2 separate regions of the Homo sapiens genome follow, and region 2 is linked to region 1. A link means that fine-mapping ties the variant in region 1 to the plasma level of a protein whose gene starts in the linked region. Region 1 holds a variant in brackets. A gene starts in the other region. All regions are shown on their reverse strands.

Evidence for each region. PIP is the posterior inclusion probability: the model's chance that the variant is causal. Protein levels are from antibody-based Olink assays in UK Biobank. Linkage for the fine-mapping came from a reference panel and not from the study's own genotypes, which makes the PIPs less certain.
Region 2: it holds the start of LPO, and the variant in region 1 is fine-mapped to the plasma level of the LPO protein (UK Biobank, PIP above 0.99).

What each region holds. Positions count from the first base shown.
Region 1 is chr19:5,843,226-5,846,130 of GRCh38, reverse strand. FUT3 (fucosyltransferase 3 (Lewis blood group)) reads left to right here. Exons shown (of 3, transcript NM_001382750.2): 3 at 1,280-2,905. The coding sequence starts at 1,292. The coding sequence ends at 2,377. Among named protein-coding and RNA genes, the nearest start is that of FUT6, 5.0 kb to the right of the region's middle. The variant T/G (reference allele first, on the strand shown) is at 1,350.
Region 2 is chr17:58,236,763-58,239,667 of GRCh38, reverse strand. LPO (lactoperoxidase) reads right to left here and starts at 1,084. Exons shown (of 13, transcript NM_006151.3): 1 at 929-1,084.

The DNA.
Region 1 (2,905 bases):
GATCTGCCCACCTCAGCCTCCCAAAGTGCTGGGATTACAGGTGTGAGCCACCGAGCCCAGCCTTTTATTTTATTTTTTTAAGACAAGGTCTTGCTCCATCACCCAGGCTGGGGTTAAGTGGCATGATCACAGCTTGCTGCAGCCTCAAACTTCCAGACTAAAGCAATTCCCCCAAGTAGCTGGGACTACAGGCGCATGCCACCTTGCCCGGCAAATTTTTGTATTTTTAGTAGAGTTGGGATTTTGCCATGTTGCCCAGGCTGGTCTTTTTTTAAAAAAATTATTTATTTATTTATTTTTGAGATGGAATCTTGCTCTGTCACCCAGGCTGGAGTGCAGTGGCATGATCTCAGCTTACTGCAACCTCTGCCTCCCAGGTTCAAGTGATTCTCATGCCTCAGCCTCCCGAGCAGCTGGGATTACAGGCATGAGCCACCACACTCGGCTTATTTTTGTATTTTTGGTAGAAACAGGGTTTCACCATGTTGGCCAGGCTGGTCTCAAACTCCTGACCTCAAGTGATCCACCTGCCTCAGCCTCCCAAAGTGCTGGGATTACAGGCATGAGCCACCAAACCCGGCTATTATTTATTTATTTATTTTTGAGACACAATCTCCCTCTGTCACCCAGGCTGGAATGCAGTGGTGTCATCTTGGCTCACTGCAACCTCCGCCTCCTGGGTTCAAGTGATTCTCGTGCCTCAGCCTCCCAAGTAGCTGGGACTACAGGTGTGCACCACCACACCCAGCTAATTTTTGTATTTTTAGTAGAAATGGGGTTTCATCATGTTGGCCAGGCTGGTCTTAAATTCCTGACCTCAGGTGATCTGCTCACCTCGGCCTCCCAAAGTGCTGGGACTACAGGTGTGAGCCACTCTGCTCGGCCGGTCAGCTCATATATTACCTGCAAAACCCAGTCCCATTGTACCTTTCTCTGGCTGAGTCATGGATTCAAGCCTTGCCTCAGTGACATGGGAAGCAATGATGACCGGCTATGCCTTCTCCCCTGCCTCCAGGGCACTTGTATTTCAGTAGACTGGGGAAGACTTCGGGGATTCCAGGAAAGGTCTTGTCTAATAGGTAGAAGGAAGTGGACTCTGGGACAAGGTCCCTTTGTTCAAACACCAGCTGTGCTGATTTTTGCTGTGAGTCACTTGGTCTCAGTTTTCTCATCTGTGAAACAGGAATAATAGCAGCTCCTCTCAGGACTCATGGCCCGGAGCTTTGGTAAGCAGGAGATTGTCATCAATGACCCTCACTCCTCTCTCCTCTCTTCCCAGATACTCTGACCCATGGATCCCCTGGGTGCAGCCAAGCCACAATGGCCATGGCGCCGCTGTCTGGCCGCAC[T/G]GCTATTTCAGCTGCTGGTGGCTGTGTGTTTCTTCTCCTACCTGCGTGTGTCCCGAGACGATGCCACTGGATCCCCTAGGGCTCCCAGTGGGTCCTCCCGACAGGACACCACTCCCACCCGCCCCACCCTCCTGATCCTGCTACGGACATGGCCTTTCCACATCCCTGTGGCTCTGTCCCGCTGTTCAGAGATGGTGCCCGGCACAGCCGACTGCCACATCACTGCCGACCGCAAGGTGTACCCACAGGCAGACATGGTCATCGTGCACCACTGGGATATCATGTCCAACCCTAAGTCACGCCTCCCACCTTCCCCGAGGCCGCAGGGGCAGCGCTGGATCTGGTTCAACTTGGAGCCACCCCCTAACTGCCAGCACCTGGAAGCCCTGGACAGATACTTCAATCTCACCATGTCCTACCGCAGCGACTCCGACATCTTCACGCCCTACGGCTGGCTGGAGCCGTGGTCCGGCCAGCCTGCCCACCCACCGCTCAACCTCTCGGCCAAGACCGAGCTGGTGGCCTGGGCGGTGTCCAACTGGAAGCCGGACTCAGCCAGGGTGCGCTACTACCAGAGCCTGCAGGCTCATCTCAAGGTGGACGTGTACGGACGCTCCCACAAGCCCCTGCCCAAGGGGACCATGATGGAGACGCTGTCCCGGTACAAGTTCTACCTGGCCTTCGAGAACTCCTTGCACCCCGACTACATCACCGAGAAGCTGTGGAGGAACGCCCTGGAGGCCTGGGCCGTGCCCGTGGTGCTGGGCCCCAGCAGAAGCAACTACGAGAGGTTCCTGCCACCCGACGCCTTCATCCACGTGGACGACTTCCAGAGCCCCAAGGACCTGGCCCGGTACCTGCAGGAGCTGGACAAGGACCACGCCCGCTACCTGAGCTACTTTCGCTGGCGGGAGACGCTGCGGCCTCGCTCCTTCAGCTGGGCACTGGATTTCTGCAAGGCCTGCTGGAAACTGCAGCAGGAATCCAGGTACCAGACGGTGCGCAGCATAGCGGCTTGGTTCACCTGAGAGGCCGGCATGGTGCCTGGGCTGCCGGGAACCTCATCTGCCTGGGGCCTCACCTGCTGGAGTCCTTTGTGGCCAACCCTCTCTCTTACCTGGGACCTCACACGCTGGGCTTCACGGCTGCCAGGAGCCTCTCCCCTCCAGAAGACTTGCCTGCTAGGGACCTCGCCTGCTGGGGACCTCGCCTGTTGGGGACCTCACCTGCTGGGGACCTCACCTGCTGGGGACCTTGGCTGCTGGAGGCTGCACCTACTGAGGATGTCGGCGGTCGGGGACTTTACCTGCTGGGACCTGCTCCCAGAGACCTTGCCACACTGAATCTCACCTGCTGGGGACCTCACCCTGGAGGGCCCTGGGCCCTGGGGAACTGGCTTACTTGGGGCCCCACCCGGGAGTGATGGTTCTGGCTGATTTGTTTGTGATGTTGTTAGCCGCCTGTGAGGGGTGCAGAGAGATCATCACGGCACGGTTTCCAGATGTAATACTGCAAGGAAAAATGATGACGTGTCTCCTCACTCTAGAGGGGTTGGT
Region 2 (2,905 bases), not on the chromosome of region 1:
CCAAGGAGATAGGGGGAAGGCCTGAGAAGGGATGAAGTCAGTGAGATTCTCTTCCATGATTGTAAAGAGCCCTGTGGAGGGTGGTGGAGTGAGCCAATAGGAAAGCCATAATTCTTGCCCCATCACCTGCAGGAACACTCTCTTGATCTTTTGAGTGACTCCAAGATCAGGATGAGAATGAAGAGATAGCTCTTATCAAGCCCTCTAGAGCGGAAATAATCTACTTCAACTGAAAGATTTGAGGCACACAATTGCATAAAAAACAAATATAATTTAACCACCCCATTCCCCCAAAATGAAGCCTGCCTACTACCGCTGCATACAGGTCACACACCTGCTTGAGAGCCAGGTGTCCACAGGGCACTTAAGACAGCTAGGACTAGACATTGAGGGCAAACTAGATGGTCGGATCTGCTGCAGATGGCAGGCATGAGATGCTGGAAATGAGATGAAGACCTGACAGCTCCGGCTTAGGGAACCCCTTAAAACACTGCAAAATCTCCACTATAGTGGAGAGGCCAGATTTCATCACACTGTCTCAAGAACAGCACAGGGAGCACCATTCTGTCACTGTTTTCCCCCAAATTCCTGTGTGACTCTGGACACATTAAATTGCTTAAGTCTCAGTTCCTAAACAAGGTGGATAAGAGAGGTCTATGGTACCTTCCAGCCCTAAGAGTTTATGATTCTCTGACATAGTTTTCAGACACAGAAAAGCCTTTTTCCCCCACAGTGGTGGGGGGAGGCTTAATTACATTCTCTCTTATACCAAACAAGAGGAGTGTGCCATGGGGTGGCTAAAGCTGGCACCAGAAAGTGCCTGATAGAGACAAGTCTAAATCCAGTGTTAAGCTTTCTGAGAAGACGTTAGGAAATTTCATCATCAACTTTGCAGAAACCAGGAAAGATGAAAGTTGACGAGTCTTACCTGCCCAGTGCCTTGTCTTTTCACGGCAGCCAGGGAGTTGCTCTGCTTGGAGGAGCTGGTCTTTTATACCTTCCAGCAAGAATTCACTTCTGGGAAAGGCCCAGAAGGAAAGATTTTGATGTGGCTTGGAGGAGACGCTGAGGCTTAGCAGGAAAGACTGTGTGACTCCGGGCAGATACACCAGGAAACTGCAGAATGGCAGGGATTGGTTGATGCAATAGCACTGACTGTGGGTGAAGCAACTCCTCTTTCCATTTTCTAGCTTAAATGCATGATCCTGATCTAGTTCCGGAAGGCAAAAACTGCATGCCCTGAGCACATTTGTCCCTTTTAAGCTCCTAATGGGATCCGAATAGCTCTTAGAATTATGAACAATTATTAGGTTGGTGCAAAAGTATTGCAAAAACCGCAATTACTTTTGCACCTAGCTAAATGGTTCTCCTCCCCATTCATATATTCACTGCCCTTTGATCCCTCCCTTACATTCCACCCAATTTACTGTGGAATCCAGTGGATTCATCTTTTGGATTTAAAGTGATCAATAAACATTAATTTTTTTGGTCAAAATTTCAAAATACTTTTGGCCACCAAAGGGTGAGAAGAGCCCTAAGCTTTCATAGTGGGTTGCAGTCCCTGCCTCTGCCATTGTATGGCTCTAGGCAAGTCACTTCACCTTCTGGTGTCTCAAATTTTCTAGTATTGAAATCAATGGTTGGTTTTGGTGATTATTATGATTCTATGACTTCATGCCTTCTATAGGGTGACCCATTTAAAAAACTCCAGAATCTGGGAGGCCAAGGTGGGTGGATCACTTGAGGTCAGGAGTTGGAGACCAGCCCAGCCAACATGGTGAAACCCTGTCTCTACTAAAAACACAAAAATTAACCAGGCATGGAGGTGCATACCTGTAATCCCAGCTACCTGGGAGGCTGAGGTGGGAGAATCACTTGAACCTGGGAGGCAGGGGTTGCAGTGAGCCAAGATCATGCCATTGCACTCCAGCCTGGGTGACAGGACGAGACTCTGTCTCAACAAAACGAAACAAAACAAAACCACCACTATCGTATAAATTATTGACCTAAAGCTCAAGCATAATGTTACATACCTTTCCTACCTCAATGACTTTGGAAATTCAAGTTCATTAGATTCATACAAGAAGGAAAAAGGAAGATTCCGAGAAAACAAAATTTCATGAAAGTATATTTTACAGACAGACAATTTAAAACATAATAAGCCTCTTTATGAAATTATACTTTGAGTTGAAAATACTCTGGGAGCAACTGTCAGAAATTTATCAACCCCAAAACAGACTTCTTGGTTCGCCTTCAAAAAAGTGATATTTCCTTTCTCTAGATGGTGGAATATATCTAAAAACTACTTCTCTCGTGATGAATCCAGGCAAATAAGCTGGGCATCTCGGAAGAAGGCAGCTGTCCAGGAGAGGTGAATGAGACATCAGGCTCTTCTTGTTTTCTTTGAAACACACTTCAGCTCCTTAGCCAAGCATTGTTTTTCTGTGTCTGACCATTCCCTGAACTTTGGCACATGTTTCTCAAGGTTCTTGCCTCTGAGTTTTATGCTTAATATGTTCAGGAAGCTGTGTTGTTAGGCAGATCTTGACCTAGTTGGTTCTGAATAATCTGAAGATGGAACTTCCTTTTAGAAGACCCTATGGGATAACATTGCTTCCTATGTACAAAATATAGTGACTTATTGGTCAGGGTAACAGCAAAATACAGGTCTGATTATTCCCGGGTTTTATCATGTTATGACATGATATGATATGTCCTAGCTTTGGTCTTTCTGTAATGGGTCAAATAGGATGGGGCAGTGTCAGCTCCAGCCCAGTAAGGACCTTCCTTGATATTGGCCGTGAAGCACACCTGGAGGCAGTCAATCTGACAGTGACATGCCTATTGTTCTATAGCTAATTTTTATTTGAGAGCTTTGCTGACATGTGATGACATGTTTTCATGG